Linked DNA regions of Homo sapiens. The protein of the gene in region 1 purifies or fractionates together with the protein of each later gene. This does not show direct contact. Each region holds a gene or a part of one and is shown in the gene's direction. Other genes may lie near its edges.

What was found.
Region 2: the proteins of TTK (region 1) and NAA50 purify together in Homo sapiens (affinity purification with mass spectrometry, with the first as the bait; one large-scale study listed by BioGRID). This does not show direct contact.
Region 3: the proteins of TTK (region 1) and ESPL1 purify together in Homo sapiens (affinity purification with mass spectrometry; one large-scale study listed by BioGRID and IntAct). This does not show direct contact.
Region 4: the proteins of TTK (region 1) and UTRN purify together in Homo sapiens (affinity purification with mass spectrometry; one large-scale study listed by BioGRID and IntAct). This does not show direct contact.
Region 5: the proteins of TTK (region 1) and RCBTB2 purify together in Homo sapiens (affinity purification with mass spectrometry; one large-scale study listed by BioGRID and IntAct). This does not show direct contact.
Region 6: the proteins of TTK (region 1) and KIF2A purify together in Homo sapiens (affinity purification with mass spectrometry; one large-scale study listed by BioGRID and IntAct). This does not show direct contact.
Region 7: the proteins of TTK (region 1) and HERC5 purify together in Homo sapiens (affinity purification with mass spectrometry; one large-scale study listed by BioGRID and IntAct). This does not show direct contact.

The regions. Positions count from the first base shown.
Region 1 is NC_000006.12:80,007,649-80,011,148, forward strand, and holds part of TTK (dual specificity protein kinase TTK), read left to right. Parts: intron 1-160; coding exon 161-383; intron 384-737; coding exon 738-844; intron 845-3,165; coding exon 3,166-3,309; intron 3,310-3,500.
Region 2 is NC_000003.12:113,722,250-113,725,749, reverse strand, and holds part of NAA50 (N-alpha-acetyltransferase 50), read left to right. Parts: intron 1-1,654; coding exon 1,655-1,791; intron 1,792-2,208; coding exon 2,209-2,328; intron 2,329-2,777; coding exon 2,778-2,844; intron 2,845-3,500. UniProt on the Homo sapiens protein: N-alpha-acetyltransferase that acetylates the N-terminus of proteins that retain their initiating methionine. Has a broad substrate specificity: able to acetylate the initiator methionine of most peptides, except for those with a proline in second position.
Region 3 is NC_000012.12:53,288,799-53,292,298, forward strand, and holds part of ESPL1 (separin), read left to right. Parts: intron 1-291; coding exon 292-505; intron 506-605; coding exon 606-796; intron 797-1,286; coding exon 1,287-1,414; intron 1,415-1,548; coding exon 1,549-1,671; intron 1,672-2,042; coding exon 2,043-2,198; intron 2,199-2,891; coding exon 2,892-3,062; intron 3,063-3,185; coding exon 3,186-3,290; intron 3,291-3,479; coding exon 3,480-3,500. UniProt on the Homo sapiens protein: Caspase-like protease, which plays a central role in the chromosome segregation by cleaving the SCC1/RAD21 subunit of the cohesin complex at the onset of anaphase. During most of the cell cycle, it is inactivated by different mechanisms.
Region 4 is NC_000006.12:144,456,335-144,459,834, forward strand, and holds part of UTRN (utrophin), read left to right. Parts: intron 1-2,435; coding exon 2,436-2,677; intron 2,678-2,839; coding exon 2,840-3,020; intron 3,021-3,500.
Region 5 is NC_000013.11:48,523,081-48,526,580, reverse strand, and holds part of RCBTB2 (RCC1 and BTB domain-containing protein 2), read left to right. Parts: intron 1-1,823; 5' UTR 1,824-1,922; intron 1,923-3,500.
Region 6 is NC_000005.10:62,312,706-62,316,205, forward strand, and holds part of KIF2A (kinesin-like protein KIF2A), read left to right. Parts: intron 1-3,500. UniProt on the Homo sapiens protein: Plus end-directed microtubule-dependent motor required for normal brain development. May regulate microtubule dynamics during axonal growth. Required for normal progression through mitosis. Required for normal congress of chromosomes at the metaphase plate.
Region 7 is NC_000004.12:88,470,619-88,474,118, forward strand, and holds part of HERC5 (E3 ISG15--protein ligase HERC5), read left to right. Parts: coding exon 1-55; intron 56-1,790; coding exon 1,791-1,884; intron 1,885-3,500.

The DNA.
Region 1 (3,500 bases):
TTGTATTTATATGAACTTTTACAATTTTAAAAAGTATTATAAGGACTTTATGTACATTGATACTGACAGTACAAATGTTTGACTATATTTTGAAGGAAAAATGCAATTTGGCATTTGTTTTATGTCTTTTCTTGTGATATATTTTGTTCCCCTTATTTAGATAACTCGGGAACTGTTAACCAAATTATGATGATGGCAAACAACCCAGAGGACTGGTTGAGTTTGTTGCTCAAACTAGAGAAAAACAGTGTTCCGCTAAGTGATGCTCTTTTAAATAAATTGATTGGTCGTTACAGTCAAGCAATTGAAGCGCTTCCCCCAGATAAATATGGCCAAAATGAGAGTTTTGCTAGAATTCAAGTGAGATTTGCTGAATTAAAAGCGTAAGTATTAGCATTTTAACTATGTTCAACTATGTTACATAATATGTAACTACACTGCAAAGAGAGAAAATAAAAAACATGGCAGTATTGTGAGAAAATATTAATTTTTTTACCAAATACTTTTGCTTATAGTTAACAAGAGACTAATGTAAACTCTTTTCTATGCACGTTTCCACAACAGTTTACTTATTTTAAACTGCCTAAAAAGATTTTTTTAAAATAACTTATTAGTATTTAATTTTACCCACAGAAAAAAGCAATATCCCATGTTTTTTGGAAAATTGAATGAAGCATTATCAAATTTAAGTAGCTATGTTCTTTTTCTTAAATTTTGACTCAAATCTTTTATTACAGTATTCAAGAGCCAGATGATGCACGTGACTACTTTCAAATGGCCAGAGCAAACTGCAAGAAATTTGCTTTTGTTCATATATCTTTTGCACAATTTGAACTGTCACAAGGTAATCTGAAAATGTCAAATTCAAATTTTAAGTAAAGGATAACTTATTACAACTTACTTCCTAATATTAAATCATATATATGAAGTGGAAATTTGAGGCAAAAGACATTAAAGTTGATCAGATGAGAATATGGGGAGAAAATGCCACCTAAATGTAAATGCAGAGAATATCTGTTATACTAGCTTTTCCATGTATAAAGAGTAATCCAGGGAAATGAGCATGAACATTGTGTATGTGCTACTAGTTAGATTCAGGAAACATCTAAAGGAAAGTAGCTGCTTCACTGAGTATTTGTAGGAAGAAGGATATCAGATATTTAAGCTAGAGCTTTAAATATCTAGAGCTTACATAAACTTTTCTTATGCTATGGTTTCATAGCACCAAAATGTACATTAAAGTGTAGCTATGTAACTTGGTGGTCAAGTAAACTATATATCTGTGTGTGTGTGTGTGTGTGTGTGTGTGTGTGTGTGTGTAGCGTTAATTGGTAGTTCTTTAAAATAAAAAAGTAAACTGCTGTAGAAACTATTTCTTGCTCACTTGGTTCTTCATAGTCTGGATTTTTTTGGGTAGGACCAAGACAATCTCTTCCTAAGACATTTTTAACCTGGCCATTCCTTAGTCTTTTCTCATTTTCCAGGGCCTTTGGATACACCCTCAGTCTGCCCTCTGGCCAGGTGTTTCCATTCTCCCACTGCCTTGTTTCTGCTACAACTGTGATCCAATTTACTGCCAGTGATAAACATATTAACACTATTGGAAGAATCCCCATGATGGTTTCCATAGCAGGGATTGGTCACTGGAGAGTATTCCCCAGGATTGAGCCTGGAGAAAATAATTATATGACTCAGAAATAATTTGAGAACCCTGAATTGTTACCCATTCAGATGATTTCTGAGTCCTAGTAATTGTCTTCTCCAATATGTCCTTTGCTCTATCAGGTTACTTTTTAGAACTATTATCCCTTTCTTCTCTAGAAAAATGGATTCCTCCTTGCTTGTTAGAGAAAATTTGGCAAGGCTTCTTTCTCTCCATTCTGCTTGAAAATTTCTTGAGGTATTGTGGCCTCTCAATAACAACCATAAATTTTACATGTTTAGAACATGTAAATATTGAAACTCTTAAATTGAGTTATCTGTAAAAAAGACGAACTTTATCTATACCACTTTATCTGCAATGTGGTAGTAATGCACAGTGATGCAATGTGGTCAAATGCATTGCACAGTAATGCAGTGTGGTCAAATTATGATTATTTTGAGCACAGTTGATGGCTTGGCTGTCAGGAAATAATGCAGCATCCCTGAAGTCCTATGCAGAGTCTGGTGTGTGAGTATTTTTATAGGGATGGAGGACATTTCAGTTTTTACCAGATTCTTAAAGAAATCTCTGATCTCAATACTAAGCTATCTGATTAATTAAGCTTCTTAAGCCTTTCTCTCTTTTCTTGTGCTAAAATACACAATACATGAAATTCTACCACTACTTAGTAAATGTAGATGTAAGCACTATCAAAGATATTTTTAAAAATTTATAAACTACCAGAAGCTAGAGATCATCTCTTAAGCATTTTTATACGCTAAGTACCAAGTGCATAGCATAGCTCAATGGCTCCCATAAATGTTGATAATATTCTGTAAGATATGTGATGTATACATTTAATATTTATATGTCAAATGCTAGGGGTAAGTTTACCAATTTTTTTGGTAATCTGTCCATACTCAGAAAGGTAATTATGATAGTTCCTCAGTTATTCTGCATTCTTTTTCAGGCTGGTATAGCTGAGTGTGACAGCTAAAGATTAATCTGTATTTATTATGTTTTTCCCCGAAAATCCTTTTGATGGAAGATGCTCTTTAACAAAAGATGTCATCCTTCCCTTAACTAAATGTCATTATGAATGATACTTATTATAGCATGTTGTAAGAGACTGATGCTCTTGGCACTTTTGTAACATCTAGAATGCCCTCCTGTTTCTAACTGTTGTGATTGGCCTTTGCTGTCCCCTGTTGGTAACTGCTTTGTTACACTTCTGTTACTTCTGAAAGTGGACAGTGGTGATAAACTAATGCAAAATTACGTCAGCTACATATTGCAAGGAAACTATTTGGTATGCATTGTTATCAGAAGAGAGTTGGTTATCTGCATAAAAAGTGAGAGATTGCTTACTTGCCTATGAAATAAAATACATGAGCCTTGGAATAAATATTTTTGCTTAAGTCTTTTTGATTTTTTTTTCTAGGTCCTGATGAATACGTATCTGGGTGGTCTGGGTGGTGGGCATTTTACTGCCTAAAAATGACAATTATCTTTTGCTTTGTTAGGTAATGTCAAAAAAAGTAAACAACTTCTTCAAAAAGCTGTAGAACGTGGAGCAGTACCACTAGAAATGCTGGAAATTGCCCTGCGGAATTTAAACCTCCAAAAAAAGCAGCTGCTTTCAGAGGAGGAAAAGAAGAATTTATCAGGTAACTATTAAGGTATACTAATACTTTCTGTGGTAGGTAGTACTTCAAATAAAGATTCGGGATAATAATTTATAGAAAAATATTATTTATGTAGAATGGTTAAAATCTAAGATTAAATTGTAAAGGAGGTAAGACTGAGAAGTAAAAAAGTCTCTACAACCCCATGCAAATTTGTCTTTTTTGCTAACTAA
Region 2 (3,500 bases), on another chromosome or scaffold:
GTCACCCAGGCTGGAATGCAATGGTACACAATCATAGCTTACTGCAGCCTCGACCTTCCAGGCTCAAGCAGTCCTCTCACTTCAGCCTTCTAAGTAGCTGGGACCATAGGTGCACGCCACCACACCTGGTTAAGTTTTTTTAAAAAAATTTCTTACAAAGTTTTGCTATATGCCCAGGTTGGTCTTGAACTCCAGGGCTCAAAGGATCCTCTCACCCCGGTCTCCCAAAGTGCTGGGATTACAGGCCTTCATGCCCAGCTGTTTTTTTTTGTTTCTGTTTTTGTTTTTTTGCATTTTAATCTAAATTTTAACATTTCAAAATACAGTTTTTAAAATTACAATTTCTACTACAAATTAAAATCCTTTCAAGCATGTTTTTGTATATGTTAACAAAAGTCCGTTGTTAAATATAGTTGAAATGTGCTTTTTCTCTACAAAACACAATATGCTACAACATCTTTTTGGGCAAATAATACGGATGGAGCAAAAAAATTGTAGAATGCTGTCAGGTTTGCCTTATCACATTTGATCCACCTTTAACAGTATTGAAGTTCACTTCAGCTATTAAAAATTCTTTGTTTACAGCTCTGCAGGCAGAATACCTTTGATACTTTGTTAGAAATTGGAACTGAAAATTTTTCGCTTTAATCTTTTCCATGGACCCAATTGTTTTGATTACAAGTGGTTTCTTAGGAATGCTCCTTTTATTAGTCCTTTCTCATGCTGCTAATAAAGACATACCCGAGACTGGGTAATTTATAAAGGAAAGAGGTTTAATTGACTCACAGTTGCGCAGGGATAGGGAGGTCTCAGGAAACCTATAAACATGGTGGAAGGGGAAGCAAACACATCATTCTTCACATGGTGGCAGGAAGGAGAAATGAGAGCGAAGTGAAGGAAAGCCTCCTTATAAAACCATCAGATCTTGTGAGAACTCACTATCACGAGAACAGCATGAGGGCAACCGCCCCCATGATTCGCCGGGTCCCTCTCACAACATGGGAATTATGGGAACTACAAGATGAAATTTGGATGGGGACACAGCCAAACCATATCACTCCTGTTGCTTTCTTAATGGATAGTTTTCATCCTGGGGTGATTTTCAAGATGGTGGATTCCTTTGTTTCGTTTCCAGCAACTCTGGTTCTGAAAATGGGGTATGTGTATCCAGGAATGTGAATTTTGCATATCACCTCTGTGACTCTGATGTAGGTAGTTCATAGACCACGGTTTTCATGAATAGAATGTGCATGGTATTGCATACCTCCATTGTTTTCTTAGAATAAATTACTAGAAGTAATAAGATACTTGGGCAAAGGAACTGTAATTTTACCAGAAATAGGTGTATCTAAATTTTTCTGAACTATGAACTACAAGGAAAATTTTGACACTTGCAGAATGTTATTCTGGCCTTTGTAGTAGTCGTTGTGTACCATATTTGTCCCTGAATGTATGTAATTATATGAAAGCTATGAGTAGAATTTGTATTGAATGACTGTCAAAATTTGCTTATAAATGATAATTTGCTTATAAATCAACTCTGAAAGAGTTGGATTTATCAATCATGTAAAAAAGACTTGGTACCCCTTTCATATGTTCATATTAACAAATGGGGCTAATTATGTTTTATTGAGTACATTTTGATTTGTTCCAGTAGCCGGATCGAGCTGGGAGATGTGACACCACACAATATTAAACAGTTGAAAAGATTGAATCAGGTCATCTTTCCAGTCAGCTACAATGACAAGTTCTACAAGGATGTGCTGGAGGTTGGCGAGCTAGCAAAACTTGGTATAATATAGTTTTTTTTTTGTCCTCCCTTCTTTTCTTTCTTTTTGTTCTTGAACCCTAGTTTTTTATAGAGCAGAAGAAGTTAACTAATTTAGTTTGTTTATTTTATAAGTGAGGAAATGGGAGTGGTCTAGGTTGTGAGAAAAATCTCAGAGAAATCAGTTGAATAAAACAGTTGAATTTTAAAAAGAAATGCTTAGTGTTCTTAGTGTATACCTGTGTGTTTTCACTTTAAGCTATACTCTAGAGGAGGCTTAAACTTCCTAAGATGGCATAAGAGCTTTGAGATCATTGATATTCATGAAATAGTTGATGAAATTTAATGTTGATAGGAACAGTGTAGTCCTTTAAAAGGGAAAAAGATTAAATGTGTTATTCTGTCTGTTCAACATTATATCTTTATGTTTTCCTTGGCAGCCTATTTCAATGATATTGCTGTAGGTGCAGTATGCTGTAGGGTGGATCATTCACAGAATCAGAAGAGACTTTACATCATGACACTAGGATGTCTGGCACCTTACCGAAGGCTAGGAATAGGTAAAAAATTGTGGTTTTTTTACTTCTTCAGAGAAGCATAAACATATTATTTGTTAATGTGTCTGACCTAGTAAGTTAATTTGGGTCTTTTTAAGGAATACTGAGAAAGGGTTACTGAATTATGTAAAATATGGTGAAAAATAACTAGTGTTTATTAACATAATTCTATTGGAAGCCCTACATAGATTTGCTGTTTACGTCCCCTTCTGCTTTTTCTGTTTTTCTTCTACCCGGAAGTGCTTGTTTAAAAAGGTTAGTCTTCTGCTAACAGTTTTAAACATACGTAGCTATTGTAGAGAGAGAACACAACTTTGGAAAATAAGGATATCTAGTGTATACCTCATAAATTCTTTTAGGACTCAATAAGTAGTTCAGATGGCAAGTGGATAGATACATAATTTAAAGGTTGATTTATGAAGTCACGTGTTTGTTATTTATTTTATTAACAGGAACTAAAATGTTAAATCATGTCTTAAACATCTGTGAAAAAGATGGTACTTTTGACAACATTTATCTGTAAGTAAAATAATATTTAATGTTCTTATCAAAGGGGTTTAATTGGCAGGAGAAATCTTTACTAGAAACTTTAAAATCTGGTCACTTATTGTGCCTTTGGAAACACTGTGGAAGTAGTTGTTACAAAGTATTCGAGTAGTTGTTAGTTTTGTTTAGTTTTGTTTTATTAATAATAGTAGATTAGGAACCTGAGATAGAACACATTGCTTTATTATATTAGGATGAGAGCACCAAAGTCACAGGGATGAAATCAGGATTAAAACTCAGGCCTTCAGAATTCAAGACTATTAATACTACTTTTCTCATGCAAAACCTTGTGTGTTTTGTTCAAGGCTATGTTGATAGCTTTGAACATTGTAGTAGATCATTTGTAGTAGAGTTTAATAATCAAAATCAGAGATTACCTAGCTGAGATTGTACTTGAATCTCAAGAGGCTGTAGATAAAGAGTTATGACTAAGATCACAGTCATGGATGTTCATAATTTAGTTTGGCCATGTGAGAGATTGAATTATACAGTGTTATTTTGGGAGTAATTGAGAAAGCTTGCGTTTTTAATTTTTAAAACATACCATGTATTTTATCAATCAGAAGGAAGATATATCTTCAAGCTTTGAGACCCTAGTTTTTTATTTTTCATCATTTTTTTTCTGTGTG
Region 3 (3,500 bases), on another chromosome or scaffold:
GTAGCCTCTGAACCTGTGTTTGAACCCCAGCACTCTGTCTATGAGCTGTGTGCAGGTCACTTAACCTCTCCAAGCTTCTATTCCTTCTGTAAAAATGGGGTTTAGGGAGCATGGTGGAATAAGTTGATGCCTGTTAGTTGCATGGCACCCCACTTGGCACATTGCCCTTCATAAATGGTAGTTGCTGTTTGCCATGTGGGAGATGAGATAGGGACTGTTCCTTCTTGGAAAGTTCCTATCAACTATGAAATAAGGAATTCAGCTGTACCAAGTGTCCTGACGTTCTTCTAGGTCTTTCTACCCTGGACTCCATCTGTGACTCCCTGAGTGTTGCTTTCCGGGGCATTAGTCACTGTCCTCCTAGTGGGCTCTATGCCCACCTCTGCCGCTTCCTGGCCTTGTGCCTGGGCCACCGGGATCCTTATGCCACTGCTTTCCTTGTCACCGAGTCTGTCTCCATCACCTGTCGCCACCAGCTGCTCACCCACCTCCACAGACAGCTCAGGTGGGTGCTGACCATCCCCAAGACTCCTGCTGGGGCAGACTAGAGAGAAGGTCCAGACTTTGAAGGAATGGGACCTCACCCCTCCCCGTGTTGCTTGCAGCAAGGCCCAGAAGCACCGAGGATCACTTGAAATAGCAGACCAGCTGCAGGGGCTGAGCCTTCAGGAGATGCCTGGAGATGTCCCCCTGGCCCGCATCCAGCGCCTCTTTTCCTTCAGGGCTTTGGAATCTGGCCACTTCCCCCAGCCTGAAAAGGAGAGTTTCCAGGAGCGCCTGGCTCTGATCCCCAGTGGTATGCGGGCAGCCTTCTGGCCGGCTCCTCTGTCCTCTTCTGCATCTTCTTACTTGGGAGCTGGGTGAAGGAGTTTTAGGCATTGGTTAGTTTACATAGATTTATGACCCTTATGTCATACCTTTTCACCTGTTAGCATCTTACATCAGGAAGGTTTGTTGTTTTTTTTAAACCTCAACTTTGAATTACCAGCAAATTCAGTGTCTTTCCTCAGAGGTGAGTTCAGATGACTGGGGTCTTCTGTGCTAACATGAAACATATTCACATGATTTGAGTGCCTCACTTTGTTAGTTGCTGTGAGGGACACAAAGTACAAGTCATGGTCTCTGTGCACAGGGAGCTATTAGAGCAAGGGAGAGCACCTTGACCTCTAGTGACCAGGGAAGGCTTCTTGATGCTGGCTTGAGTGATGGATAGGAATTGAGTGCCCAAGACAGGGAAGGGAATTCCTTTAACAGCTGAATGAGTCTGGCTGTATCCTGTGTGTCAGGGGTGACTGTGTGTGTGTTGGCCCTGGCCACCCTCCAGCCCGGAACCGTGGGCAACACCCTCCTGCTGACCCGGCTGGAAAAGGACAGTCCCCCAGTCAGTGTGCAGATTCCCACTGGCCAGAACAAGGTAGGATTCCTGGGCCATGGAGCAAAGTTGGGCTGGATTGGGCTTCGGGTCAAGCTGCTCACATTCTGTGTTGAGGGAGGGAGAGATGGTGATCACGTGGACAAGCAGAGCTCTCACAGCCCCATCTCCCAAAGCTTCATCTGCGTTCAGTCCTGAATGAGTTTGATGCCATCCAGAAGGCACAGAAAGAGAACAGCAGCTGTACTGACAAGCGAGAATGGTGGACAGGGCGGCTGGCACTGGACCACAGGATGGAGGTGTGTGCTTCTGGGGTGGGGTCAGGCCTGCTCTAGGAATGACCCGGGGGGTCCCAGTGACTTCTCTACCAGACGGCCTGGGTCAGTGCTAAAGCCACTTCAAATCCCTTCTGGAAGTGTAGACCTAAATTTAAAAATATGTCACCTGGGGAGAACTTCAGAGCCCAGAACTTGAAGAATATATGGGAATGGATATTTAAAGATACGCAGAAAAAAAACGACTTAAACCCAACTATCAGCTTCCCAGCAGAAAGATACGTAAGACAGACATGCACATTGGAAAACGCATTTTCTCATCTCCAAAATGTCAGTGCCTGTGAGAAAGAAGCTTGGTTTCCTCTCTGACTGAAGGGTCTGCCCTCTGCATTCAGGTTCTCATCGCTTCCCTAGAGAAGTCTGTGCTGGGCTGCTGGAAGGGGCTGCTGCTGCCGTCCAGTGAGGAGCCCGGCCCTGCCCAGGAGGCCTCCCGCCTACAGGAGCTGCTACAGGACTGTGGCTGGAAATATCCTGACCGCACTCTGCTGAAAGTGAGTGAGGAAAGCAGGGAAGGGGGCCAGGCCCAGTGGCTTGCACCTGTAATCCCAGCACTTTGGGAGGCCAAGGCAGATGGATTGCTTGAGCTCAGGAGCTCGAGACCAGCCTGGCCAACATGGTGAAACCCTGTCTCTACGAAAATACAAAAATTAGCTGGGCATGGTGGCAGGCACCTGTAATTCCAGCTTCTCGGGAGGCTGTAGCAGGAGAATTGCTTGAACCTGGGAGGCGGAGGTTGCAGTGAGCTGAGATCGCCGCACTCCAGCCTGGGTGACAGAGTGAGACTCCATCTCAAAAAAAAAAAAAAGGATAGGCCCCTTGGCTTACGCCTATAATCCCAGCACTTTGGGAGGCCGAGGCAGGTGGGTCACAAGGTCAAGAGGTGAAGACCATCCTGGCCAACAGGGTGAAACCCCATCTCTACTAAAAATACAAAAATTAGCTGGGCTTGGTGGCACATGCCTGTAGTCCGAGCTACTCAGGAGGCTGAGGCAGGAGAATCGCTTGAACCTGGGAGGTGGAGGTTGCAGTGAGCTGAGATTGCGCCACTGCACTCCAGCCTGGGCGACAGAGCAAGACTCTGTCAAAAAAAAAAGAAAACAGGGAAAGGGAAGAAACTGGACTTAATCCTTTCCCAGCAGCTATCATGAATGAAGATGGTGCTCACCACCACTGTTTCCCTGCAGATCATGCTCAGTGGTGCCGGTGCCCTCACCCCTCAGGACATTCAGGCCCTGGCCTACGGGCTGTGCCCAACCCAGCCAGAGCGAGCCCAGGAGCTCCTGAATGAGGCAGTAGGACGTCTACAGGGCCTGACAGTACCAAGCAATAGCCACCTTGTCTTGGTCCTAGACAAGGTAAGGAGCTGGGGCAGAGGGGCAGTGTCTAGTGGGGAGTGAATACCAACTCATCCCCATGCCCCTTCTGACTTCTGCATATACCTGGCTGGGGACAGTAACCTCTTAGTGCTTTTTGCCCAGGACTTGCAGAAGCTGCCGTGGGAAAGCATGCCCAGCCTCCAAGCACTGCCTGTCACCCGGCTGCCCTCCTTCCGCTTCCTACTCAGCTACTCCATCATCAAAGAGGTGGGGTTCAGGGCGTAGTGTCTGGGGATGACTGGCGACTGGGGAAGACGTCAACAAAGAAGGGCAGAGAAACCTGAGAAGATAGGAGAGGGTCCTAGGAATGGCTCAGACATGGAAAGGGGCTGAGATTGTTAGAGCTTGGGCCTCTTGGTGAGACAAGCATCCTAATCGCCAGTGTCTCCTCCTCAGTATGGGGCCTCGCCAGTGCTG
Region 4 (3,500 bases), about 64 Mb from region 1:
AGAGCATAGAAACAATTTTAGAAAATAAAATAGCGTGAGGCTGGGCGCAGTGGCTCACACCTGTAATCCCAGAACTTTGGGAGGCCGAGGTGGGTGGGTCACGAGGTCAGGAGATCAACACCATCCTGGGCAACATGGTGAAACCTCGTCTCTACTAAAAATACAAAAATTAGCTGGGCATGGTGGCACATGCCTGTAATCTCAGTTACTCAGGAGGCTGAGGCAGGAGAATCGCTTGAACCAGGGAGTCGGAGGTTGCAGTGAGCTGAGATTGCACCACTACACTCCAGCCTGGTGACAGAGCAAGACTCTGTCTCAAAATAATAATAATAATAATAATAATAATAATAATAATAATAATAAATAAAATAGTGTGTTTCATTTGACTTTCATAGCTGATATACTTGGTTTTCTTCGTTTAGCTTATCTTGTTCCTAGAGCTCTTCATCTAGTAAAATACAGTAGAGTAGTTGGGCATCTGGATAATGTGGCTTTATGAATCAATGCCCATTGTGGTTGCCTAAGCATATAAGCCCAGGAAGTTTGGTGAAGGTCCTATGTTTTGTAAACGTTTCCCTTGATTCCAATAGTGATAGACTGAGAAGTGTAAAGTCAAGTGAGACTGAGTGGCAGGAATGTGTTCTATGTTCTCCCTTTTAGACAATTAATAAAGTGATCTTCTGTTGATTTTGCCTTTTGACTAGTCACCTTCTAAGAACTCTGTGTTTTATAGAAATAGAAAATTTTAAACTCTGGATCTCTGGGAGTAAAACAACTATTTTTAAAGACAATGTGCAGTTTTCCTTTTATAAGATGTAAATTGTGTTTGAATCATTACCGGGCATCACTGTAACCAGCAATATCTCAGGATTAGAGAAAGGGAGATTCAGATGTTTAAAATTGGTTTAAAGAGGCAAAATGAATGGCTTGTAAGACATTGTCAGTGAAAAAATAACTGAAGTTGTTTTAACCGCCCTTGTTCTTGAAGTGAGCACCTCTTTCCAGTTTTCTAGATGAGTAGTGGTAATTTTCCATCTCAGAAATTTTATTTACCTACTTAATTTTCTTCCTTGATTAGTATGAATTGTCCAACATAAAGATGATGTGGCTGGTGTTACTATTCCTTTGCCTGCCTAGAATAGAAATGATGGGGCAGGGGCATGACCCATATCTCCATTGTTCATATTGTTAGGAAAATGGTGATTTGTTTTGTATACTCTCCCCATTAACAGGGGTAATGCAGCATGGCTTGTGGTGTGAATGCTTTGCTTATGTCTCATATTCTCTTACCTGAGAGATGGTGGTGAACAGTGAACTTCTGCAATTGACATAGGTGACACATTCAAATGACAGCATGATATGCCCTCATTTATGATTTTCAGTAGACACAGTGTATTATAAAAATTTTCAAAGTTGCATTGTCTGTGGATCATACATGACTTTTTGTTTTTATGCCTTTGTTTTTTAGTTCAAGCTCTCATTATCCTGGATTTTGATCATATATGTTTATAAAGCAGGATTGTTTTATTGCTTTCCTACTCAATAAAAATGTGAAGCCATCCTTTTGGTATGCATGTTTTCCTCCGAATAGAAAGATTCCTTTGAAGATTTCCCATACTTTTTCATAGTCATTTTAGAGGATTTGAAGGTATTTTAGATTAAGGGAAGGACTATGATAAAACCTATTATTATATATGACTTTATTATTTTTAGGAACATTCTCTACTTTTCAAAAATATCGGACAAATAAAATGATAAGATTTCAGTAATAAAAATGGTGGCATTGTTTTCCCTGATGTGTTTCTAAAGTAGATCATCTTATTGCTGCCTCAGTCTTTTGGTATTTGCTTATTTATGTGCAAGGTCTCCAGTGGGCTTGCTGATGCTTCTAGAGCCTGGCTGCTGGCTTAATATTCCTGCACTCACCAGGTTGCTTCCCAGCATAAGGCATCCTCGCCATTCATTTTTTAATTTATATGACACTGTGCTTTGGTCACCAAGACCTGAGCTGCCTCCTAGTTTTTCTAGCCAGCTTTCTTTTTTTCTTAGGACAAAGGGTCTTCTTTCTGAAGTCGGGCCTAGACAGATCAAGGTAGTTGATCTTATTTCACTGGTTCAGGTGATAAACTAGCAGAGTAGAAGCATGGCATGGATGGAAACATATATTATCTAGAAAAGGCAGTGGCTGAAGTTCTACTGATGTGCCTGAATCGTTATTTTAAAATGTCTTTCTTCTTTGTTCAAGGAATTGAAATAAACATCATTATTTTTAAGTGCATCATTATAAATTTTTGTTGTTGTATTAAAAGGGACTTAAGAAAGTGATCATTATGTGTGACATTGCCTCACTATTCTGAGTGTTAGAATGTTCAGAATAAATTCAAGACACATTTTGTAATATATAGACTGTTTGCTTGTTTTTCATGTCTGCATAGAAGGCCTTCCTACTGAAGAAATAAAAAATGTTCTGGAGAAGGTTTCATCAGAATGGAAGAATGTATCTCAACATTTGGAAGATCTAGAAAGAAAGATTCAGCTACAGGAAGATATAAATGCTTATTTCAAGCAGCTTGATGAGCTTGAAAAGGTCATCAAGACAAAGGAGGAGTGGGTAAAACACACTTCCATTTCTGAATCTTCCCGGCAGTCCTTGCCAAGCTTGAAGGATTCCTGTCAGGTAAGGAGCCAACGGTCTGGAAAGTGGAGGAATTCTATGTGCAGTTCCAGAGTTAAGGAGGGCTTCTCGTATCATGAACTTTAAGTTAATGCTGCCCTGATTAACTTCCTGTGAGGATGTTCATCTTCAGTGAGTTGTGTGACCGTATTTTCTCTTCCTTAGCGGGAATTGACAAATCTTCTTGGCCTTCACCCCAAAATTGAAATGGCTCGTGCAAGCTGCTCGGCCCTGATGTCTCAGCCTTCTGCCCCAGATTTTGTCCAGCGGGGCTTCGATAGCTTTCTGGGCCGCTACCAAGCTGTACAAGAGGCTGTAGAGGATCGTCAACAACATCTAGAGAATGGTAAACCCAACAATTTTAAAATCTCCTGTCTCAGTTTGCCTTAATGTAAACATGACTCCCAACATTTAGAACTTGAGTACACTTGCTTGCTTTGCACCAACCTTCTCCATTTTCCTTTGTGCCTGTATTGTTCAAAGTCTTAAAGTCTTCTGTATTCAGATTCTTTTCCAGATTCACACCTTTTTGTAAACATACAAGCAAGTTTCACATTCTCTAAAATTGTGTCAGTAGGATATAATAATAATTTTTTTTTTTGTAGCTACAGGATCTCACTCTGTCACCCAGGCTGGAGAGCAGTGGTGCAATCATAGCTGCAGTCTTGACCTCCTGGGTTTCAGTGGTCCTTCTGCCTCAGCCTACTGAGTAGCTGGGACTACAGGCATGCACCACCATGCCTGGCTGGTTTTTTATTTTTAGTAGAGCCAGGGTCTAGCTATGTTGCCCACGCTGGTCTAGAACTCCTGGGCTCAAGTGATCTTC
Region 5 (3,500 bases), on another chromosome or scaffold:
CAGTGGTGCGATCATAGCTCATTAAAAAAATTATTTATTTTTTATTTTTTGAGATAAGATCTTTGTCACCCGGGCTGAGTGCAGTGGTGTGATCATGGTTCACCGCAGCCTCCACATCCTGGGTTCAAGCGATCCACCTATCTTAGCCTCCCAAGTAGCTGGGACTACAGGCGTGTACTACCACGTGTAGCTAATTTTTAAGTTTTCTGTAGAGACGGTGTCTTCCTATGTTGCCCAGGCTAGTCTCAAACTTTTGGGGGCCTCAAGCGATCCTCAAAGTGCTGGGATTACAGGTGTGAGCCACCATGCCTGGCCTTCCTAGGGTATTGATTCAATTTTATTTTACAGATGGCTAAAGAAATTATAGTTTATGAGTTTTCATTACCAAACGTTTATTGAATTTCCATGTCCTTGGTAAAGGCAAAATTAGAATGATAGCATTCTCATTTTAAGAGTTTATTTTCTTTAACATTGGGTAACCTTAATCTCTCCATCCTGAGATGATTAATTTAAGCTTAAAATCTTGAAAACCATCTTGTCAGATGGAAAAGCTGTAGCATACCAATTCATTGACAGAGTTACATGGGACCTTTTATCTTTGGTATTCCCTCCACCAAAACTTCCCCACGAAAAAATTCCCATCAAAGTCTAGCCATGCATATGTTGGTATCCATAACACATTAAAATAGTACTGTCTTCTGCATGTTTTAAAATGTTATCAAATATCAAATGTTATCAAATGATACCATATGTATCATTTTGTGACTTAGTGATTTTGGTGAACATTGTTTTGTAGATATACCTGTTTTGATTCTAGATAATTTATTTTAATAGCTATATAGTATGCATATGCCACAGTTTATTGGTTTTGTTGATCAATTTGTTCTTTCTTGCTTTTTGCTATTGGGAATATTTGTGTGTATGCTCTAGAGTTTATCTAGGGCAGTGTTGCTAAAATTGCAGGACTTGTTAGTGATCTGGAAATTAGTGGGCTGAGATCAGCATTTTCTTTTAAAATGAAATTGAACAAGATAAAATAGGATAGAGTAGGGTAGAATAAAATAGCATAAAGTAGAAAAATGGAAAAGATATCAAGCATCTCATGTAGGAGGAGTAAGAATTATTTTGTGAAATTTCAGTTATATATACATATATAACTGAATATATATATATATATATATATATATATATATATATATATATATATCATGAATCCTTTGCTCACTTTTGAATTGTGTCGTTTGTTTTATTCTTACTGATTTGCAGGCATTCTTTATATATTTTGTGTATGGATCCTTTCCAAGCTGTCCATTATGCATGTTACAAATATCTTCCCCCATTCTGTGGCATATTTTTCCTTTTGTTCAAGTTTACTGCTCTTTTCTTTGTGTTTTATGCTTTCCTGTCTTATGTATGAAATCTTTAACTGCTCTGAGGTCATAAATATATTTCTATACTTCTAAAAGTTTGAAAGTTTTGCTTTTTTTTACATTTCCACATGGATTCTCTTTTATTTTCCATATGGAAATACTATAGATTAAATTCTCCTTAGTGTGCATTTTTTCATGTGTTTCAGTGTCCAAATTGTTGAAACCCTCTCCTGAAGCTTATAAAGTATGATATTCTAAAGTTACATTTTATAACTTTAGTATTTTTATAATAGAGCATCTCTGCTGCTGACTTTTTAATAGTAGATAGCACAGATACAATTTTTAAGCTGTATTTTTCTCAGATAAAGAATGGATTGTTAAATGTGCAAGACAGTATATTCTTTTCCTTCTGTTTTTCTCTAATAGAATTTATTTGTGTATTTATATTTCCAGTCACATTAACTTTGCTCTAGAAGACAACTTTACAAGGATCTAAAAGGAACAGGATTAAAGATGACTGAATACTGGGTTCCAGAAATTTAAAACAATCAGGTACAAAAGTTTTTGGAGGGAATGCTCCCAGCCAGTCAGTATAAAATAGAACTGTTGAGAATGTACACAAGAAAAACTTAAAGTATCTAGCCCTGAAATACAGTGGAGGGTCCCAAAACAAGGGCTTTGGAATAGTCCTGGTTCAAATACTGGCTCTGACACTGATTGGTTGGTGACTATTGGTCACGTTACTGAAATGTGTGAATAAAATGGAGGCAATGATTAACCTGTTTCATTTGGATATTATAAAGATTAAATAAGGTGAGGCACTTAGTGCCTGGCACAGAATAACTTTATTTTTACTGTTGTTATTGCTGTTGTTATTTAGAATACATTTTATCACATCATGGATATGGCTTTCTGTATGTATATTGTGAATTGTTATTTTAAGTATATATATCAACATATTGTTAATAGCCTGGTGAAATCACATGGATAACAGGGTAAGGTAATCTCCACGTGTAGTGCACAAACTATACATGCAAATTGGGGATGATAGTTTTCTTTATTATGTATGCATCACATTGAAATAATGTAAAAAAAAAAGCCAACCATCTCCCACAATGCTAAAAAATTCAAAACACTTTTTAATAGTATTATACAATAGTAATTAATCTTGATTTATTTTTAAATCTTGAAGGACTTTCTGATTGACAAATATGAAATTATGTTAATCTTACATTTCATTCAATTTGAATCCTGCATGTCATTTCTTTGAATGTGGTAATTTCCATGACATACATACAATTATGTCTTAACCTGATGTCAGATAAACAGAATGGCCTGTTTTCCTACCATTCTAATTTTAAAGAGTTTAATTTTACTTGAAATTGATAAAAGACACTGAAAAGAGGTTATTTCCTACTCAAAAGCCCAGGATCGGTTTTTCATGATTTTAGCACATTAGGAAGATTTCCCTTCTGCTAGGAACGAAAGGGGGCCTAGGGTAGTGCAGTGAGGGGCAGTCACATCTCTACTTGGTCCCTTCTTTTTTCTCTTCTCTCCCTCTTTCTTCTCCTCTCCTTTTATTTTTTATTCCAGTAAACTTGGGGCAAATATGGAAAAAGTGTTTCCTGATAGGGTGAGGCAGAAGGAGAGGGAACTTTGGTTACAGGCCAGTTCCAGTATACAAAAAGCTGGGTTCTAAGGATGCTTTGTATGAATACGTTGCGTTTTACTCTGAGCCATGGGCTGTGGGTTATAGCAATGAAGGAATCGTCTGCCCTTTTGAAGAACTTACCAATTAATAGAGAAGGTACATCATACAAGAATAACTGTCATATGAGGCAGAATTTGAAAAATGCCTTCAATGTAGTTAAAAACAAAACAAAAAGTGCTGTGGAAATACAGAGAAGAGGTCCCAGCCCATTTGGGTAATCAGGATCCACATTGATGTAAATCTCAGTGGCAGTCATGCTGGGTCTTAGAGAAAATTAGGATTTTAACAGATCTGCTAAGATGCCATAGATAATATGTAGTAAGTATTAATTAAAATGACAGAATATCTTTCCATATTGTCAATCAGATCGGTTTATAAATTTTTAAGTGAGAAACTTCTAAGTAATCTTCTAAAAAGCA
Region 6 (3,500 bases), on another chromosome or scaffold:
AAGAGACATTAGAATTTCACCATATTAAACTATCTCCCAAGAGTAATATGAGTGAGGGAAGTGTTCCTTTTAAAAGTCATGCTTCTAGGCTGAGCATGGTAGTTCATGCCTGTAATTCCAGCACTTTGGAGGCCAAAGCAGGAGAATTGCTTGAGCCTATGAGTTTGAGGTTATAGTGCACTATGATATCATTACCCACTACAATAAAACACGAAGTTCAGATGGTCATTCACTAGGGTGTGTGATATTTTGGAGTATAGACCTTAAGTGATTATGACATATCAAAATAATGTGGTCTTATGTTTCTTTTTTTTTTATTGCAGATTTCATTGAATATACTTCTATTAACAGCCTGCTATATATCAGGCATTCTGATAGGTGTTGGAGATACAAAAAATGAATAAAGCAAAAATAGTTCCTGCCCTCACAAACAAGTAAATAAGTGATTCATCTATAGTGTGATTAGTACTGATAGAAATATGCCATTTTGTGTGTACATTATTACTACCTTCCTTTTGAAGATTAGGCTTTTTTGTTAGACTCTTGAAGTTATGGACCTTTTGGATGGAAAATACATGTCATATATGCCATCTCTCCTCCTCTATGACCAATATCCGTGATCCCTCATAGCATTCCTGATGAATTTAGCCTCAGAGTTTTTTTTGAGAGGGAGTCTCGCTCTTGTTGCTCAGGCTGGAGTGCAGTGGCGTGATCTCGGCTCACTGCAACCTCTGCCTCTTGGGTTCAAGCGATTCTCCTGCCTCAGCCTCCTAAGTAGCTGGGATTATAGGCATGCGCCAACATGCCCGGCTAATTTTTTTGTATTTTTAGTAGAGATGGGGTTTCACCATGTTGGCCAGGCTGGTCTTGAACTCCTGAGCTCGTGGTCCACCCACCTCAGCCTCCCAAAATGCTGGGATTACAGGCTTGAGCCACTGCGCCCGGCCAGCCTCAGAGTTCTTAATACAGCATTATCAGCCCTAATAGCCCTAGTCTGCCAATTGAAATTGGCATTGTCATTATTAGCCTATTTCCTATACTCTAGTACCTATTTGAGTTATAAGTTTATAACTTTTAAATTGTTTTGGTATCAAAAGGAATTTTTTTTTAGGGTTTTGCTCTGTCACCCAGGCTGGAGTGCAGTGGCATGATCATAGCTCACTGCAGCCTCCAAGTCCTGGACTCAAGCAATCCTCTCACCTTAACTTCCCAAGTAGCTAGGACTACAGGTATGCACAACCATGCCTAGCTAATTTTTGTATTGTTTGTAGAGATGGGGTCTTGCTATGTTGACTAGGCTGGTCTTGAACTCCTGGCCTCAAGCAATTCTCCCTCTTTGGCCTCCCAAAGTACTGGGATTACAGGTGTGAGCCACCATACCTGGTCAAATTTATTCAATTTAAAGTTTTTGGCAGACCAGCACCTGACAGCAGGTTTCTCTCTAGATATCCTGGGTTTGGGTACTTGTAAATAGAGACTGGCTCGGTGTGGTGTCTCATGCCTGTAATCCCAGCACTTTGGGAGGCCTAGGCAGGAGGATTGCTTGAAGCCAGGAGTTGGATACCAGCCTGGGCAACATGATGAGGCTCTATTTCTACAAAAAATAAAATTAGCCAGGCCTGGTAGCATGTGACTGTAGCCCCAGCTACTCAGGAGGATGAAGTGGGAGGACTGGTTGAGCCCAGGAGTTGGAGGCTGCAGTGAGCTATGATCATGCCACTGCACTCCAGCCTGGGTGACAGAACAAGTCACTGTCTCAAAACAAACAAACAGAGACCAAGGAAGCAGAGCATGGGAAACAGCAGTGGATGCAGCTACTGGTGGTTATGTGTAATTTGGATATAAACTCCTTACACATTATGGCCCGGGAACTGTAAGAATCAGGTTCCTCCCTGGGCTATGTTTTATTTACTTTTGAAGACTTTTTCTCCAGGTTTTTGTAGGTTTTGGCATTAATTTTGACCACATTTTACCTAAAGGAAGGACAAGATCAGCAGGGAACAAACTTGTGGTAAAATTTGCTGAGTGTCTATACTGTGCTGAGAATGAACTGTTTTTTTTTTTTTTTTTTTTTTAAGATGGAGTCTCACTCTGTCACCCAGGCTGTAGTGCAGTGGCACGATCTTGGCTCGCTGCAACCTCCGCCTCCTGGGTTCAAGTGATTCTCCTGCCTCAGCCTCCCCAGTAGCTGAGATTATAGGCACGTGCCACCATCCCCAGCTAATTTTTGTATTTTTAGTAGAGACAGGGTTTCACCATGTTGGCCAGGCTGGTCTTAAACTCCTGACCTCAAGTGATCCACCTGCCTCAGCCTCCCAAAGTGTTGGGATTATAGGTGTGAGCCACTACACCCGGCCTTATGCCCGCATTTTGACCGCAACCCATCACAGGGTCGTGTGTGGAATTTTCCACTATGGTGTCATGTTGGTGCTCAAAAAGTTTCAGATTTTGGAGCATTTTGGATTAAAGAATGCTCAGCCTGTGGTGGTTTATAACTCTGGCTGCTCAATAGATCACCTGTGGGGCTGTGGAAAAAAACAGACCAAAAAAAAAAAAAAAAAAAAAAGCAACCCACCACAGCCAATATCTGGTTCCTTTGCCTAGAGATTCTGTCTGGTATGTAGTCTAGGTATCAGTATTTTACTTTAAGGCACCTAACATACTGATGAAGCTTAACTTGTCACACATTAGTGATTCCAGGGTATAGCCAGGGTTGTGATCCATTATTTTAGTAAAAGTAGTATCTCCTAACAGAGTATCTGACAAGACTTCTTGGAGAGTGAAGTTTAAATGGTGAGAGGAAGATGACCAGTCGGTTGCCCTGAGGGCAAGGAGGCATTCTAGCCATGTAGGCAGCATGGAAGAAGTCCCTGACTGGAAACAAAGCTGTCAGGTGAAGGGCATTTAAAACAGGCAGAGGGAGGATGATGAAGAAGATAAGGGAGGAGGGGTAATCTGGGGCACCTTATTAAAGACCTGGAAACAGAGGTAAGGTAAGGATCTTGGAATTAATTTCTAGGACACTTGGAAACTACTATAGGACTTAATCTCCTAAGAGCAGTAATAGGAGTTAGTGATTAGTGATAGATTAGAGGGAGCATAGTACTGAAAATGAGAGGTAGCATGGATAAGATTGCATCAGTCTAGGAGGGTGAGCAATGATTAAGGAACAGATGATATGCAGAACACACAGCAAGAAGAATTGATGTTATATTGCAATATATCCCTTGTGCTGAATAAAGGGCAGATGAGTTGAAAGGAAAGGACTTAACATTTGCAAAGTCTGAGTATAGCTTTTAAATCTCTTCAGTTTTATTTAATCAGGCTAACGCTGTTCAAGAATACAGTGTAGAGGACTGTAGAGCCTATCAAGGTAATATCAAAGAGAGCATCCAACTCAGGCTGCATATAGTTTTTGCCACTAATATCCTAAAAGTAATTGAGTTTAAGGTATAAATCACTTCCATTACATGTTTACCTGCAATGGGAATTTGCTTAAG
Region 7 (3,500 bases), on another chromosome or scaffold:
TCCAAGAGATATTTTCATCTCCTGCTTGTCTAACTGGAAGTTTTTTAAGGAAAAGGTAATATATGTAATAAATTAATTGTATTAAATTGTATTAAGAGTACCGTGAAAGAGGATAAAAAAATGATTGGAGAGTAAAATAGCTGTGTGTTCATCCCTTTTTAAAAATTTTTTTTAACAAAAGTAAATATATGTTTGCTGTAGAAAATGTCAAAAATACACACAATAAAAAGAAAGTGAAAATCTTCCATAATCCATCACTTAAGAGTAATAGCTAGCACTTACGTATATGATTATATTTTTTCATGCAAATGTATTCTTTTAAAAAAAATGAGATCATACTGGTTCTTTGTTTTTTTCTTTTTTTTTTTGAGACAGGGTCTTGCCCTGTCGTTGCCCATGCTTTAATGCAGTTCTGTGATCTTGGCTCATTGTAACCTCTGCCTCCTAGGCTCAAGCAGTCCTCCCACCTCAGCCTGAGTAGCTGGGGCTTCAGACACATGGCACTACACCCAGCTAATTTTTGTATTTTTTTGTAGAGCCAGAGTTTTACCATGTTGGCCAGGCTGGTCTCGAACTCCTGAGCTCAGGCAATCTACCAGCCTTGGCCTCCCCAAGTGCTGGGATTTCAGGTGTAAGCCACCATGCCCAGCTGGATCATATTGTTTATACATTGTTTTCTACCTAATATTTGCCCATTTTACATTTTATTCTATCTTTTTTGGTAATTTTTTTTTTTTTGAGACAAGGTCTCACTCCATCACCCAGGCTGGAGTTACAGCATCTTGGTTCTTGGGCTCAAGCATCATCAAACTCTTGGGCTCAAGCAAAACTCCCACCTTAGCCTTCCACGTAGCTGGGACTACAGGCACGTGCCACCACCTCCTGCTAATTTTTTAGCTTTTGTAAAGACAGCAGCTTTGCTATGTTGCCCAGGCTGGTCTTGAACTCCTGGCCTCAAGCAGTCCTCCCACCTCAGCCTCCTGGTGTTGGGATTATAGGTGTGAGCTACCGCACCCAGCCGGTAACATAATTTAATGGCTGCATGACCTTCCATTAGAAGGTCTTCCATGAGAAGATACTTAAACATTTCATTAATAACTTTATATTGAAGTACTAAGAAATTATTGGTCAGAAGCCCTCTCTTTTGGTTCCCACTTTTCAGTCCATTTAACGGGAAGAAATGGATGTATTTTTTAGAAATGGGAAAAATGTTTATCTTTTTTCTGTCTTCCTTCCTTCCTTCCTGTGGTCAGTCCTTTCTTCCTTCCTTCCTTCCTTCGAAAAACCTTTATCTTTTTTCTATGGCCCGCCCTTCTTCCCTCCCTTCTTTCCTCCCTCCCTCCCTCCCTCCTTCCCTTCCTTCTTTCTTTTCTTTTTTTCTTTCTTTCTTTTTCTGAGGCAGGATCTTGCTCTGTCACCCAGGCTGGAGTACAGTGGCATGTTCACAACTCACTGCAGCCTTGATCTCTCAAGCTCAAGCGATTATCCTGTCTCAGCCTCCCTCTGTGGCTATTTTTTTTAAACTGGGAAATATTAATTTTTTTAATCTATTACAGATAAGACAGCATCTGAGTTAAAGTCTTATGGTATATACAGTTAAAGCAGCCTTGATATTTTTTGGTATTTTAGAAAAAATCATGTTTACTACATTGCATTTGGATTTAGACAATTTATTATAGTTACACACTTGAGAAAAAAGGTAATTTTGTTGAAATGGGGCAAGCTCTAGAAGAAACTTTGCATCTAGGGAGATAATCTAACAAAATACTTAATTTATCTTTCTTCTACAGAAGAACTACAGAAATGATGCCTGTTTATTTGGACTTAAATAAAGCAAGAAACATCTTCAAGGAGTTAACCCAAAAGGACTGGATTACTAACATGGTATCTTCAGATTGTTATGTGGAGAAAGAAAATACACCAGAATATTTCTTAAAAGAACTCAAAATTTCAGAAGAAATGTTTTGTGTTAAGGGATTCTCCGAGACCTTGTAGCATATTCAGATTAAGTTAAACTCAGATAACATTTAGGAGTTTGCCCTTTTAGGGTGAAATAGTTGGCATAGTAGTCACACAGGTTACAGATATTCTAAATAGTGTGTCTGTACACAAACACACATACACATATATGCATACACATTCGTAGAGGGAAGTTTTTCAACTCAGGGCTTTAGGAAGATGATTAAGGATTTGTTGAGATTGGTACACTAGAATAAGAACATTTTATATGCAAAGCATAAATGTAGAAATGAGAACATTTTTTCTGATATGAATATCCCTCTCACCAGGGACTGCCTGGATTCTTTTTTTTTTTTTTTTTCCATTCTACTTTTCTGTAGATTCTAGAATGTTCTTGTTCCTTATGGGATGATTGTTTCCTGTTTCAGCACTGTTACTGCTATCTTTAGGTTTTCTTTTTGCAGGTGCTCCAAACATGCTTCCTTTATTTTTATTTTTATTTTTTTGGAAACGGAGTCTCGCTTTGTTGCCCAGGCTGGAGTCCAGTGGTGCGATCTCGGCTTACTGCATGCTTCGTTTATTAATTTAGTTTTTCTTAATGTAGTTTTTATTATTTCCCTATTTTATTTTACTGGTTGATATGGGGATACTACTTTCTGTTCTACTCTCCATTTTTTTCTCTCTGGGTCGCACTGTAGTTCCTTCTTTCTTTCTCTCTCCTTCCCTCCTCCCCTCCTTCCTCCCTCTAGCCTCACCCCATTTTTTAATCTCTCTCTGTGTTCATATCCCTCTTCTCTTTCCCTCTCAATCTTTGATCTCTCACCCTTCCTCCTTTCAGCTCCCGCACTTGCTCTGTTTGCCACAACTAGCATTTTCTATTTCAGCTGCAAGTTTTCTCATTCGCTCCTTTCTTTCAAGGAAAGATGGAAAGTTCAGTTCTCTTAACTTTGGCAGAACCACAGCCCCACTGGGGGTCCGAGGTGAAATGGTTCCCTAATTATGTACCTTTATTGGGACCCTACAACACTTAGTGCTGCCTGTATCAACAACCCAGAAACTACTCAGTGGACTATTTCATCAACATTTGTTAGAGCTCATTTTCTTTTGTTTTCTAAAATCCTCCTGTGGGGGCCAGTTTAACTTTCTTTCTGTAAGATTCTGAGTCATTGCTACTAAATACAACCATGGAAAGATTACCAAAAATAGAAGCCCTTTTGTGCGTCTGTGAAGGGAAGGGATTGGATCAGTTCATCATTAAGGGCTCCTTCTGTTTACTAATTATACCTTGATTGTGCCACAAAAAGAACATATGGTATGTAAATGAAATAATCATAGGGCATCCTTGACCTCCATTGTTTCAGAATAAGATGATTGGATTAGAAGACCTGTAATGTTTCTTTCTATCTTGAGGTTCTGCGATACGGACTCTCAGACCTTTGGCATGTGTTCATTTATTCAGCAAACATTTGAATACTTGCTGTGTGCTGGGCACTGTAATGATGACTCGATGAAGAATAAAAGAGACATACTCCCTGTGCTTT